2 linked regions of the Homo sapiens genome follow. The protein of the gene in region 2 interacts with the protein of the main gene of each other region in a pairwise test. Each region holds a gene or a part of one and is shown on either strand. Other genes may lie near its edges.

Region 1 (7,577 bases), on a different chromosome or scaffold from region 2:
GCTGTTGTAATATGCTTGCTACTTTGATGGTTTACAACTATTTTAATCTACAAAGTGTAATGTAATGGTCAAAGTATCATACATTTTTAACAGGCTTTAGTAGAAGCATAATTATTATAGAGGCTATTTTTTTTGAATCAAATCAGATAGCATAAACCAGCTCTTAGATAAAATACACGGTAACCCTGATATCTGTCCCGAGAAAGAAAAGAGGCACACAACAACGGCAATAGTTTAAATATACTGAAGTAGTTTGGTATACCAGTTTAAATATTTTGATGAGCCAAATTCAAACTGGCTAAAATAACCCAAGTGTTGACTCATTTAACTAGAAAGTCTAGTGGAGATCTCAGATGTGGCGGGTGTGGTAGGTCATGTTTTAATTCCCAGCTCCCATAACGCCATCCAACGTCAGCTTCATCCTAAAGCTAGCTCTAGTCAAGATTGCGTGATACAAGATCAGAAAACCAAACGCCACATGTTCTCACTCTTAAGTGGGAGTTGAACAATGAGAACACACGGACACAGGGAGGGGAGCATCACGCATCGGGGCCTGTCGGGGGGTAGGGGGCTGGGGGAGGGATAGCATTAGTGACGGGTTGATGAGTGCAGCACATCACCCAGGGCACGTATATACCTATGTAACAAAACTGCACGTTCTGCACATGTAACCCAGAACTTAAAGTGTATTAAAAATAAATACACAAATAAATAAAGATCGTGTGATAGTTGTCAGTAGCAAAAGAATCCAAATGCTTTCTCCTCCATATCCAGGGAGAGTGTATGTTTCTGTCCCAGCATTCCAGTTTGGAACGCTGAGCGTGTCCCTGACTGGAGCGGCTTACATTCTGTGTCGCTTGTTAATGTTGTGGCCAGGGAGATGGTTTGTGCAGATCAGCTTTTCCAATTATGACGCGTTTTCAGCACTAGGGATGAAATCATTTCCTGAGAAGGACAAGGATGATGTGGCGGATAGACATTAGTAGTAAAACTGGGGAAAGAGGAAGACTGAATGTTGGTTGTTCACTATATGGACAACTGGTCCGAAAGACACTAGCAAGCCCATGGCTGTATTTATTGAAAATTGCTGTTAGTATAATACTAATAAGAAAATATACTAATATATAAATATACTAATATAATACTAATAAGAAAATAATTCCCAGATTACAAACAACAACAAAATTTCAAGGCCAGTATGTTTCTTTTTTTATTATTTTTGTGTTTGACTTAGATGGTTGAAATGTTTTCATTTTTCATTTATAAGCATTACATTAATTTCCATGCAAAAACCCAAGATCGCATATGTCTGATTTCAATTGGCCAAAATCCAACCCTTGAGTTTGGACATTCAAGACCAAAATGAACACGTTACTTGCCCTTTCTATGAGTAGACATCATGGGTGTCCTTTGAAAGATCAGCAGGCCTCCTGACCTCTTAAACACCAGCTTGCCATGAGTCCACACCAAAACAGGGAGCCAATACCTTCCAGCACCTAATCAGGCAAGTAACTTCACTCATGAAGACAGGACACCTCTATACCAAGGCTGCCACCCACAGATATTTCCTGGGTGCTGCTCTATAGCAATACCTGCTTTTGAACAGACGTGGTATCTTCTATTTGGGGATTATAAGTTCTTCCTGCCAGTTTTTCTCAAAACTCTCAGGAAGAGTAGAGATTTTACAAAAAAGCTTACCTCTATGACCCCAAAAGAAATAAATACAAAGACACCTACTTCATCAAGTGTATATTTTCCCCAGCTTTAGATGGGGTCAACATGTATAAAGCTTTAACAACTTCTCTCAGTAAGACAGGAACCAGGAATATCAAAGAGGGCAAAGCAGGACCCCACAACTGAAGGAGAACTAAGCAAATGCAAAGAATCATTTCACTGATAGAAATGGGCAAAATGAAAAAATGATAGAATTTCGAGAGTGGTTGTTAATTTATATTGAAACACACTTTGCAATTCTGACAATGGCAAAGATTAGTGCAAATAATAATTATAATGGTATGTTCTTTAATAGGATTTAAATAAGGCTTCAAATAATTACATATGCTAAAATTAACATTTGGAAACCTTAATTCTGCTTGGAAAACTGTCAAAGACACCCTTCAAACCACCCAGTGTTCTCTGATTTGAGGACAATTACATTCAATGAAGTTGCTCCAAAACACAATTTGTAGTATTATCACTTTCAAAGTTTACATTGTTTGGTGGAAAAGGGGGGAAACTACTCTGGTCACTGGCCAAAATAAATAAATCCAGCTAACATGCCAAGTAGTTCCCAGGTTCATATGATTCTCAAATATCAGTAGTGGTGAAAGCTCATAAGAAAAAAGACAAAAACAAAATAATAAAAATAATAGGATAGAATCGTTAAGCATCAGAAAGAGATTTGTTTCCCCATACCCATGAACAAATTTGCACCAAGTATGAAACAGAAAAAAGCAAGAGGATTCATGGGCATTTTCATCTATGGCTTAAGATCTCCTTAAAAAGAAAAAAAACTCCAACAAACTAAAGAGCATGACAATAACTACAAAAAGTAAACAACGAAATCAGAGGCAGAATATGAAATAGTAATATACTGTTTCAGAGCCTGCACCATCCTGCAGAACCAGGAAACTTAAAATTTGTTCTTAACAAATCCAATCTAGGCTGGATATGTAAAAAACAGAAAGATAGCATCACAAACCACACGACACATTATCAGAGTTTAAGAATCAGGAAAAAAAAAAGTCAGCTAACACTCAGAAAAATTTGTCATCAATTCTGAAATGGGGCCTTGTGACATCGTCAGGATTGATAAAGACAGAGATTGACTTTCCCGGGTTCTCAGTCACTAGCTGCTGCAGTTTTTTTGCCAAACGGTCATCAGGCTGGTTGGGGTCCCCTCCGTCAGACTGTGGAGAGGGGATGCTGGTGGTGCTACCTCGCCTCTGGAGCTCCAGTGTCAGCCGGTTGGCTGCCTTGACATGCTCAATGGCGGTGCGCAAGTGCTCTGCCGGGTCTGAGCGCACAGAGGACAGCTTCCGGGCGTGAAGCATGACTGTCTCCTCAGACAGATGTTCCAGCATGTTGCACTGAGGGATGAAATAATTGGGGCACATCTTGTTGACCAGACAGTGTTGCAGGTCATCGATGAGGCCCAGCAAAAAGTGGGCTGCATAGTCTTCTTGAGCCAAGTAGTTGGCAGGAAGTCTGTCGCAGGCCCAGAGCATCATGCTCCGCAGGTGATAGGGGCTAATAGCCTTGGGCCGGGACAGCAGTTTAATGATGATGGCTTTGCAGGCCTGATAGGCCTGCATGAGGCTGCTGGAGATGCACTTCTTCAACTGCACCTCGCTCCTGGCAAAGGACAGCCGCCATTCATTGTCCTTCTTACCCTTGTAGGAGCAAGCAGGCACCAAGTAAAACCCACTGATGACCTCTTCCTCAGTAATCTTCCCATCCCAAAAGTGGTTCTCCATGAGCCAGCTCTGGGCCACTGCAGGCCAACCTTTGAAAGATACCACAGGGACAATATCATACAACATGCGACTACTCCCTACACCCAGAATGATGGAGATGATGGTCCCATTTTTTTCCACCTTTTCTACCTTTGGCATCCCTCGCTGGGGTTTCTTCTGTATTTCTGATAGGACAATGCTGATAGAGTCATAGAACCAGTCAGCCACTTTGGTAGGTGAGAAGAAGTAGTTGGTGGCACCATTGATGTGATCTACAATGGTGCAGCAGTCTTTCCATTTACTGATTGTCCCCTCATCAAAGAGCCGAAGGCTCAGCCAAGAGTGGCACAAGGCTGAGTGGCGCATGTCGAGTGTCACAGGCTGATTACGGTCATGCAGCTTGAGGGCTGGCACCAAGAGGGTAAAGTCCATATCATAGTCAGTACCCCGGGCATAGACATTAAGCTCATCTAAGTCCAGGTCCACCACGCCTTCCCGGACACCTCCAGAGAGCAACAGGTATTCATTAGCCACTGGAAGCTTTTGGTCCAGCTTTTGCACCATTCCTGGAAATAAAGAAGAAAAAAACAACACTATTACAGGAAACACAGACATAAGAGTCTTATGCATGAAACAGAATGCTCTGATGTTCCAAGAACCAAAACTCATTATCAGTACTAAATCAAATCTCAGGCTGCTGCAGAGACCTGGCCAACAGTACTTTCTCACTAGTGCTAGAATCCACCCTTTTCCAAATGCAAGAATTATGATAGATTTTTCTCTCTCAGTGTGAAAAGCAGTATCGTTTTCAATAATAAAACAGGGCCCCTCTTCCCCCAGTCATCATCTCAGTTAATGGAATTGCCATCCACTCAGTTATGCAGACTGAAAACCTCAGTACATTTCAACTCTTTGCTGCCCTTCTACTGCCAAATCTTTTCCATGGAACCTCTGCCAGGGTTTCTCACTTCCTTCCCTGTTCTCCATCTCTCCTGCCATCATATGAAGTTCGGCCTTTTTTATCTATTGCCTAAGCGGTTTTCTTTCCCCAGGCTCTTTGCGCTTACACTCTTCTTTGTACCAGCGGTTCTCAGTGTGGGCTGGAGACACTTTCAGGGGTAATGAGTTCATAACTCTCTTTATAATAATACTAACACACTGTTTGACTTTTTTTTTAAGAGACAGGGTCTTGCTATGTTGCCCAGGCTGGTCTAAAATTCCTGGCCTCAAGCAATTCTCCTACCTCGGCTTCCCCCAAGTGCTGGGATTACAGGCATGAGCTACCACGCCCAGTCTTGTCTGACTTTTTTACTGTGTTGCCATTGTACTAATGGCACAGAAACAAGGGAGGATAATATTGCCAGTGCCTTAGCAGCAAAGACACTGATGCCAAACTGTACTAGCAGTCAGTAGGTTCTTTACCACTGACATGCATTAGCAATTTTTTTTTAAAAAACCCAGTTTTACTTAAGAAAATCCTTGATGGAGAAGAAAAATAAGTTATTTTATTGAATCTCAACCTCTGAGCCATTAGAAAGACTATCTTCCTAATAGTCTGTGTGATGAAATGGAAATAACCATAAAACCCGTCTTCCTCATACTGAAATAGGAAATCTGTCTTCAGGAAAAGCACTCACGTAACTGAGTTGTGAGCTGAACTAGCCTCTTTGTTCATGGAACGCCATTTTTACTTTAAAGAACAACAGAAAACTATGGCTATTTAGATTTGGGTATTTGGTAGACATTTTCTTCAGAAATGAACAAAATGAGCCTGGCTTCAAGGAAACTACTGACAATATTTATTGCCAATGATAAAGCTGAAATTTCTAAGGGAAAATTAAATTTAGAAAACTCCGCACCATGAGCGTGACATCTTCTCGAATTGTATACGTTTCTGATTAAATTGGCGATGATATTAACAAATGTGATTTTTTAAGAGATTGTGGGTCCTTTTGAGAACCATGTCTCATGTATTAAGCAGGTATAGAAGACTCCGTGCATGCAGTAGGAACATAATTCAAGCTATGACTAAATGATAAGGGAAAAAATGCATGAAATTAATAGGTAGATAGCATTAATAGATGGAATTAACATAAATTCTTAAAGGCTAGACTTAAATGACTGTTCCATAAACAACATATACATTTTCCCTCCTTCATTATATACTTGCTTACGCTTGATTCTCTGACAAACTACCAGCGTCATCCTGTGATTTATTTAACAGTGTTTCCCCAAAGATCAAGACCTACCACAAAGTATTATAATATTCCATTATTCATTATAATTCATAGTTTGCTCTTCATAGGACAATCCCAAATCAAATAAACCATATGCCTGTGTTTTCTTACTATTATTGTTATACTCTGAACGTTCGTGACTCCCACTCACATGTTGAAATCCCAACTTTCAATGTGATAGTATTAGGAGCTGGGGCCTGTGGTAGGTGATCAGGCGTGAGAGTGGAACCCTCATGAGTGGGATTGGTACCCTTATAAAAGAAACCTCAGAGCGCTTCTTTACCCCTTCTGCCATGTGAGGACACAGTGAGAAGACAGCCATCTATGAACCAGGAAGCTGTCCCTCACCAGACAATGAATCTGCAGGCACCTTGATCTTGGCTTTCTTGACATCCAGAATGGTGAGAAATAAATCCCTGCTGTTTATAAGCTACTCAGTTTAGGTACTTTGACATAACAGCCTGAATGAACTAAGACAATTATACTTTAAAATTTAACGCTCATTTATTAAAATATGCTCTTTAAAATCCTATTTTCCAAACCACATTAACCATGAAAAAGTCTTTTATTTAGTACAATTCTTTACACACAGAAATATGGCAAGTTATCATTTTCTTTTTAAAACCGTAAGTTAGCCAACATTATAGTGTCAACAATTCATCAGAAAGAACATCCAACAAACCTGACTTCTTGGCTGTTTCTCACACTATCTGCACTGTGATACGGCATCCAGGTCCCTCTTCAATAAAGGACTTCCAGCTGCTTAAATGCTAGCCCTTAAGGATTGTCTCAGCTGCAAAGGGCTGTCTTAGCCAGGTCAGGTCCTGTGGCTGGGATGGGGGTTGCAGGTGCACATCCAATAACTGATCGGTGTGGGAGTGTCCCAGCTCAGGATACTCTGAAGGGCCACTCAAACTCTGAGTTCCCAGTGGGGTTGGCTGTGGCGAATGATGCGCCTGCAGGGAAGCTCAGCTTCTCCTACTTGAACCTGCTTCCTTCCCCACTTCGACAGGTGTAGATCCCAAGGGTGCTGCTTCATAAACATCCTAACTCCATTTCAGAGGCTGCGTCCTGAGAAACCCAACATACTACACTAAATACTATCCAAGCAAAACAGAAGATACTACCTACTACCCAAACAAAAACCGTCTTCAGCATGGAAAATATGTTTTTCCTTTTTAAAGTGTTTTCTTTTTTAAAGCCAAACTTAATCCGGATTGAAAGTTCTTATAAATGCCAAGACAAAGATCCATTTCTCAAATGTCATTATGTTTTAATATTAACCTCATCTTTGCCATGTAAAGAAATACTACCATCCCACGTTTTGGTTATTGCTTTAAAGGATAAAATTGATTTCTCAGATTCCAGATTAGGTTGTGAAAATCATTTTCATTATTTTATGAACTCACATGTTGGAACAGTCAGTTTCAGTGAGATATATTTGATAATGAAATCGTTTACTCTTCATTATTTCAAACATCCTTTCATTCTACCATTCAGAATACCATAAATATACGTGAGAAGTACTGTGAAATGCTGTGTTGTGGTTAGTAAATAAGATCTGAATCTATTAAAGTGATATTGTTATTTGAGTACACACTGTTGTCTCCTCTTAGGCGTAACTAACTCAAAATCCTATATATGCTTTTGTCCTGGACAGAAGCAAACTGGCTTTGAGCCCACCAACTAAGACTCGTCTATATAATCAGGGTAACTTGTGCATTAACAACCTGGAGATAATTTGTCTACAAAAGTGCCACTGAATTTTGCCTTGGATTGTTACAATCTTGTTTGGAGAGTCTTGGGTAAGCCATAGCTAAAACTCCCTTCTGCCCTCTGCTGGATTTAAGAAGTTTTAACCTGTTTTCACTTGTCAATATACACA
Region 2 (8,035 bases):
TGGGGACAGGGCTGGGTGGGTAGGCAGGCAGGGCTCACCTGTTACAGAAGGGAAGAAGATGCCGACCAGCACGGTGAAGGATGTGGCGATGTCAGCGACCACGTACAGAGGCAGGCTCTCCTTCAGGCTCGGGGCATCTGCGGAGGGCAGCCCATGCTTCTCCACGATGTCACCCTTCTCCAGGTAGGCGCTCCACAGGTTTTCTGCAGGGGTAGCTGTGTCACCACCACAGCTGCCCCCCACTACCCCAGGTAGTTTGGGGCAGCCTAGCCAGAGGCGCAGATGCAGGGCAACTTTGGGGACTCAGGGAACAGCTTCAGCCCAATGACTGCAGCGTCAGCCACAGGGCTACCCTGACCACAGAGAAGGAGCTGCCCAGCTAGAAGTCGACAGACAAAGGTGGCTGAACCACCGTCACCCAGAGCCCGCCACTGCCCGCCTTCCACAGAGGCCTTTATGGATCCTGTGGGAACATCCCCAGGCAGTGTCAGGGGCTGGTGGCTGGGGAAGACAGGCTGCTGCAGGCCTTGGACGCTGGCCAGACAGGCTCCACTCACTCCAAACTCGGCTGCCAGGAGCCAGGCTGGGAGGACACTGGGGGGCTGGGAAGGCGGCCAGTCCTGCCCCCGTTCCCAAGCTGGCCACACAAGGACAGCTCTGTGCTCTGTGCCCCTGCTCAGCCTGTGGGCTCAAGAGCAAGACGACGGGAGGGAGGACCCACCCTGGAGCACACCAGCAGCTGCCCCGGGGATGCCAGGGATCTCGGTCACATTGTTGAGCATGAAGTAGGGGTCACAGGAGTCGGTCGTAAGGTTGGGGCTGTGGCAGAAGAAACTCCATAGCTGGGTGGCCACTGTCTCATTGTCCACTACAGCTGTCTTGGCACAGATGTCAAACTGGTCCCGGGACAGGGTCCTGTTGCCCAGCATGCATACCCTGTGAGGGACAGAAGCACCGGCACCTGCTCAGGTCAAAGCCCCTGCCTGTGCCCACCCTGCAGTCTCTGGGATCTGGGGCATCAAAGGCTGGCTACATGGGAGGGATGTCCATGCAATGCCCAGATAAATTCCTGGGTTACTTACGGAAACACGGGAGGGTCAAATATAGACTTTATGCCCCCAGCATAGATGGAGAGGATGGAGATGATCACACAGGCCAGGAAGAGCGAGGCAAATTTGTTCACATACTTGACCCCCACAAACACCACCAGGGTCATGAAGGTCAGGAAAATGGTCCCATACACACGCATATTGTTCAAAGTGGCATTCGACGTGTCATGAGCACCCGATGGGTAAAAAATGGCAGCTGGTGGGGCAATGTAGGTCTGAAACAAGAAGATGGATAAGGAGGGTTTTATTTCTTATTTGGAAAGTGAAACTTGTCGTTTTGGTTTTCTTTTTACGAGTACCTAAAAGAGGCCGGGCGCAGTGGCTCACGCCTGTAATCCCAGCACTTTGGGAGGCTGAGGTGGGGGATCACTTGAGGTCAGGAGATCATGACTAGCCTGGCCAACATGGGGAAACGCCATCTCTACTAAAAATTAGCCGGGCGTGGTGGCACGTGCCTGTAATCCCAGCAACTGGAGGCTGAGGCAGGAGGATCGCCTGAATCCAGGAAGCAGAGGTTGCAGTGAGCAGAGATCGCACCACTGCACTCCAGCCTGGGTGACAGAGGGGGACTCCGTCTCAAAAAAAAATAAAAAATAGGTCAGCGCCGTGGCTCACGCCTGTAATCCCAGCACTTTGGGAGGCTGAGGCGGTGGATCACTTGAGGTCAGGAGTTTGAGACCAGCCTGGCCAACATGGTGAAACCTCATCTCTACTAAAAATACAAAAATTAGTGGTGCAAAAACTGGTAGTAGTGGCACACGCCTGTAATCCCAGCTACTCGGGAGGCTGAGGCAGGAGAATCACTTCAGTCTCGGAGGTGGTGGTTGCAGTGAGTAGAGACCACACCACGGCACTCCAGTCTGGGTGACAGAGTGAGACCTTGTCTCAAAAAAATAAATGAATAGGCCGGGCGCAATGGCTCATGCCTATAATCCCAGCACTCTGGGAGGCCGACTGCCTGAGCTCAAGAGTTCGAGACAACCCCAGGCAACTTGGTGAAACCTCATCTCTACTAAAATACAAAAAATTAGCTGGGCGTGGTGGCATGAGCCTGTAATCCCAGCTACTCGGGAGGCTGAGGCAGGAGAATCACTTGAACCCAGGAGGCGGAAATTGCAGTGAGCTGTGATCATGCCACTGCACTCCAGCTTGGGCGACAGAGTGAGACTGCATCTCAAAACAAATAAATAAATAAAAATAAAAAATAAGAGTACCTAAAAGAAGCCAGTCACAAAAGGTCACATATTATATGATTCTGTTTATATGAGATGCCCAGAATAGGCAAATCCCAAGGCAGAAAGCAGATTCCTGGTTGCCAGGGCTGGCGGGGAATGGAGAGTGACTGCTAATGGGGGTTCTTGGGATGATGAAAATGTTCTAGAATTGACTGCGCAACTCTGTGAATATACTATAAAACATTGAATTGTACACTTTCAATGGTATATAAATTGGTATGGGAATTGCATGGTATGTAAATTATATGTTAATAAAGCTGTTACTTAAAAACAAGCAAACAAAAAGGATCCAAACATAGATGCCAACCTGAATCGTTAAATAGCCAAAGTGGAACAGTTTGAGCAAGAAAATAAATAATGATAGTATTGGATTACAACCCAAAGAATAAAGTAAATATCCAGAAGTCCATACAGATATAATGACATGGCTGAATAGATAAACAGGAGAAGGGACAAATCCCACATAATGAATGTAGAAGGGATATGAGAAATGAAAACAAGCCAAAGCCCCCCCAAATCAGAAGATTCAGGTGCAGGGTCCTGCTGCAGGTAGAGGACCTGGAGACAAGAACAGCCAGGCAGTCCCTCCAGGTATCTCCTACCCTCTGGATCCCCAGGGGCGGGCACCTGTCACCCCATGCCTCCCGCAGCTCCTTGCCTCTTCTCCCACTGGTACGGCAGTTCACTGGGGAATGAGAAGCTGAGGCTGACAGAGCTCCCATGGGGCTCGTGGAGGGAGCGCCGACCTCCAGCAGGGTTCTGTGGCTGCTTACCCTGATTGAAGGACAAGGAGAAGGTGGATCTGAAGTGCCCTGGCACAGAGCCCCGGAGGACACAGAGCTGGCCAGAGCTCACACAAGCCCAGAAGGAAGCCTACATCACCACCAAGATCTGTCACTGAGCTGAATACAACAGTTCCTGGAACCCTTGCCATGGCTGCAATGGTGCCCAGGTGGATGGAACATCCAGGGCCGAGGTGAAGGCAGCCAGGCCTCTGCCTTGCCTGGCCCAAACTGGCATGGAGGTGAAAGGAAGACCAGCCTGAGTAAAGGTCTTTGTCTCTCGAAGAGGCTTCCTACTTTATAATACCCAGGCCTTGGCCAGACATGTGGGGATGAACAGCCTGAGCCTTCTGTTTGGAGTCCAAAGGGACTGTTTGGACATGGCCAGAGTTGGCCAGGGCTCAGCCTGACTCACCAGCAAGATCTCGATGGCCCCCAGGATGTACATGGCTGCTGCGAATGTTGTTCCCAGGTAGAAGCACAGGCCCACAGCACCTCCAAATTCTGGCCCCAGTGAACGAGAGATCATGAAATAGGAGCCCCCAGCTACAGCAGAGAAATGAAAGTGTGCACAGGTCAAGGCTGGTTCTTCTTCAAGGGGTCTCCCTGTGACAAGCCTGCACAACCACCCAGAGGGACAGGGACTGCTTTTCCTGTTTGTGGATGAGTAGAGGGGCTGGGAGACCTACCCAGGGCTGCACGGTGGGTAAGCATCTAGGCTGACATTCGATCCTATCCCCATCTGACTCGAATGTCCAGCACGGCCCGTGGAAATAACTGCTTTGCGGGAGCAGCTCTAGTCTGCAGCAGTGGCTGACTGGCCACCATCCTCCAATGCCCTGTGCACAGCCCACAGCCTCCTCTGGCTGGGTGTGTCCTATCTCAGCCCACCTCACCCTCCTGAGGCCTGTGCCTTTGTTAGTCTGACTCCTCCAGACCAGAGGAGGGACTGTCTCATCCAGCCTTTTGGCCCTAAGGCCCCGCACAGTGCCTGCCACCAGGTGAGTGTCCACGGCTCCCTGCCCTGAATCTGTGCTTCTATCAAAGTCTAACACCCTTAAAAGACTCAGAGAGTCATGACCAGGCCCCAGGGTGACAAGCACAGGGGGACAAGAGTCATCTCATGTTGCTGGTTGTATCTGCTGCTGAGACAATGTCTCTGGTGAAAATCTGGGAACAGGGATCAAGAAATTCTTTCAAAGAGTCAATCTTGGCTGGGCGTGGTGGCTCATGCCTGTAAGCCCAGCATTTTGGGAGGCTGGGGTGAGTGGATTGCTTGAGCTCAGGAGTTCCAGACCAGTCTGGGCAACATGGCGAGACCCCGTCTCTACTAAAAAAAGGAAATGATAAAAATATACATTTTTAAAAAAAGGCCGGGTGCAGTGGCCCACATCTGTAATCCCAGCATTTTGGGAGGCTGAGATGGGTGGACTGCCTGAGCTCAGGAGTTCGTGACCAGCCTGGGCAACACGATGAAACCCCGTCTCTACTAAAATACAAAATTAGCTAGGCGTGGCGGTGTGCACCTGTAGTCCCAGCTACTCAGGAGGCTGAGGCAGGAGAATCGTTTGAACCTGGGAGGCAGAGGGTGCAGTGAGCCGAGATCATGCCACTTCACTCTAGCCTGGCGACAGAGTGAGACTCCGTCTCAAAAAAAAAAAAATGTCAGCTGGGCACAGTGGCTCACGCCTGTAATCCCAGCACTTTGGGAGGCTGAGGCAGGCAGATGACTTGAGGTCAGGAGTTTGAGACCAGCCTAGCCAACATGGTGAAACCCCATCTCTACTAAAAATACAAAAATTAGCTGAGCATGGTGGTGCATGTCTGTAATCCCAGCTACTCGGGCGGCTGAGGCAGGAGAATCGCTTGAACCTGGGAGGTGGAGATTGCAGTGAGCTGAGATCGTGCCACTGCACTCCAGCCTGGGCGACACACTCCGTCTCAAAATAAATAAATAAATAAATAAACGAAAAGTCAATCTTTTTCATGCCGTAATCCACCTCCAGGACCCTCTCCTAAGGGAACTGCTGGGGCATGAACAAAGATTCATGTTCAAGGATGTTCATGACAACAATGTATACAATGGTGAAAAAGTGGAACCCACAGGCAGGAGAATAATCACATTAATTAGGTTATGGTGTACCATGGAGAATCCTGTTTTCAAAAAACCATTTTCGGCAGGGTGCAGTGGCTCACACCCGTAATCCCAGCACTTTGAGAGGCAGAGGTGGGTGGATCAGTTAAGGTCAAGAGTTCGAAACCATCCTGGCCAACATAGTGAAACCTCGTCTCTACTAAAAATACAAAAATGTGGTGGTCGCCTGTAATCCCAGCTACTCAGGAGGCTGAGGCATGAGAATCACTTAGAATTGCTTAAACCTGGGAAATGGAGGTTGCAGTGAGCTGAGATCATGCCACTGCACTCCAGCCTGGGTGACAGAGAGAGACTCTGTCTCAAAAAAAACCCAAAAAACCAAAATCAAAAAACTGTTTTCAACACTTGGGAAACATACACACACACATACACACGTAAACATATACACATAAATGCATATGTATATATACACACATATACTTTTGGGAAATACACACAAACACACACACACATATATATATATATATATACAATTTATGTAAATAGAGTGTGCGTGTGCAATACTTCATAAGACCCTAAGACTTATATATACCAAAAGGCGAACAGTAGTGATTTCAGGATGGTGGGATTATGGGTGCTTTTAATTTTCCATTCTATACCTTTCTGCACTTTTTTATTATTTATTTATTTATTTTGGAGATGGAGTCTTGCTCTGTCACCCAAGCTGGAGTGCAGTGGCATGATCTTGGCTCACTACTGCAACCTCTGCCTCCTGGGTTCAAGCTATTCTCTGCCTCAGCCTCCCAAGTAGCTGGAATTACAAGTGCCCACCACCATGCCTGGCTAATTTTTTTTTTTTTTTTTTGCGACGGAGTCTCGCTCTGTCGCCCAGGCTGGAGTGCAGTGGTGCAATCTCGGCTCACCGCAAGCTCTGCCTGCCAGGTTCACGCCATTCTCCTGCCTCAGCCTCCCGAGTAGCTGGGACTACAGGCGCCCGCCACCACGCCCGGCTAATTTTTTGTATTTCTAGTAGAGATGGGGTTTCACCGTGTTGGCCAGGATGGTCTCGATCTCCTGCCCTTGTGATCCACCCACCTCGGCCTCCCAAAGTGCTGGGATTACAGGCATGAGCCACCGCGCCTGGCCTTTTTTTGCACTTTCAAACCCTCTTACAGTAAACATACATTGCCCTTTTTTTTTCTTTTTTGGTATTGCTTTTATATTAACAAAAACCACAATGGCACTCTCCAACTCTGTCAAGCAGGAAAGCTCCTACGTGGGCACTGTCCTGGCATCAGGGATTGGGAGCCCACTACAGAACTGCTTGGGGCAGGGGTGTGCTATGGGGGTTCCCAGGTAGGTCAAGGCAGATACTGGGTCCTTTTCTCTTCCACCAGGCCTTGGGTGGCGCTCACTGACCTGGAACCACACCGTTGGTGGCGATGGCACTCATGGAGATGGCCGTCAGCAGGGTCTGTGGGAAGGAGGGCCTGGGTGAGCGGCTCAGCTGGGTGGGCTCTGTGGGGGCAGCCGTGGCCCATGCCCAGCCCAACCCTCCCACGCCAGGACACTCACACAACAGCAGCAGATAAGCACGATGAGGAGGGCCTGTAGCACACCTGCTGTGCCCACCATCCAGGTCAGCCGCAGGAAGAGGATAACCCCAAAGATATTCTGCAGGCAGGGCAGGTACACCCCCATGAGGGTGCCCATGCTGGGTGCCTATGCGAACACAAAGGGAGGGGGCGAGTAGAGCATCAGAGGGATGCACCATGGAGAGTCAGCCCTAGTCACTCAGCAGGCCCCCTCCCCCAGTGGGGCCCCAGGGAACACAGAGAGTAGGGGTGACAGCTAGGATGTCTCTATTGACTTTCATATAGGAAGACAGTTGAGTCTGGGAAGGTGTAAAACCTGATTCTTTTTAAAAACCCACATTGAACTTTGGAACCTTAACTCTCTCTCAAGGTACTGCCTCCTTCCCTTCCTCTCTTCTGTTAAACTTCTAGAAAGAGAGGTTTGTCTCAGATCTCCACCTTCTCACCCAGCAGGCCCTAAGTCACCCAAGCCAAAGTCCCAGAAGTCATCCCTGGCCCTCCCTCTCAACCCCCAACTCTAGTCCCGGTAGACACTAACTCCTACCCAGTCTGTCTCCCTGCTGCCCTGAGATCAGCCTGCCTTGTCCCAGCCTTAGTCCCTTGAACCTGGGGCACCTGGGTGGTACCCTCCTGAGCCTGTCAACCTCTCCACACTCCAGCCCACTCTGCTGCTATAGTAGGTCTCTGAAAGCAAGTCTAATCTCATCACCCATGCTGAAAACCCTCTGTTGTCTTGTAATCCAGTGTGCCGTCCAACTCCTTGGCTTGGGCCACCAGATGTGTCCCATCACCTCTCTTATTAGCTCCAGCCCCTGACCACATGGGTCCCTCAGATTCTGCGAACCTGAGAATGTGCTGGACTCTGCCTGGGAGAGTCGGCCCTGCCTCACGGCCTGGCAAACTCTTCAGTGAAACTGTTACCTCTCTCGGGAAGATGTCCGAAGGTTGCCTCAGGTGGAGTTGGTTCTCCCTCTCACATTCCTTTGGCATCTGATACTCCCTATCACAGTGGTCACTACAGGTCATGGTAACAGAATGTGCTTGTATATTTTGTTACTATATTAGGGCAGGCTTGGCTTGTTTATGGTTCTATCACCAGCAGGCCCTGCAGGTACCCAAAAGGTGCTTCTGAACCCAGTGAGTGGTGCTTTGGAAGCCCCTGGGACATCCTGTTGGGAAAATCCTACAGAGAAAGTGCTCAGGCTGTAGGGCAGGTGAG

Evidence for each region.
Region 1: the proteins of SLC12A4 (region 2) and MB21D2 interact in binary tests that used the Homo sapiens proteins (3 or more experiments, as listed by UniProt).

What each region holds. Positions count from the first base shown.
Region 1 is NC_000003.12:192,795,630-192,803,206, forward strand, and holds the end of MB21D2 (nucleotidyltransferase MB21D2), read right to left. Parts: intron 4,022-7,577; coding exon 2,757-4,021; 3' UTR 1,186-2,756; downstream 1-1,185. UniProt on the Homo sapiens protein: Probable nucleotidyltransferase that catalyzes the formation of cyclic dinucleotide second messenger in response to some unknown stimulus.
Region 2 is NC_000016.10:67,951,102-67,959,136, forward strand, and holds part of SLC12A4 (solute carrier family 12 member 4), read right to left. Parts: intron 6,944-8,035; coding exon 6,797-6,943; intron 6,696-6,796; coding exon 6,641-6,695; intron 3,673-6,640; coding exon 3,542-3,672; intron 1,325-3,541; coding exon 1,083-1,324; intron 937-1,082; coding exon 722-936; intron 204-721; coding exon 39-203; intron 1-38. UniProt on the Homo sapiens protein: Mediates electroneutral potassium-chloride cotransport when activated by cell swelling. May contribute to cell volume homeostasis in single cells. May be involved in the regulation of basolateral Cl(-) exit in NaCl absorbing epithelia.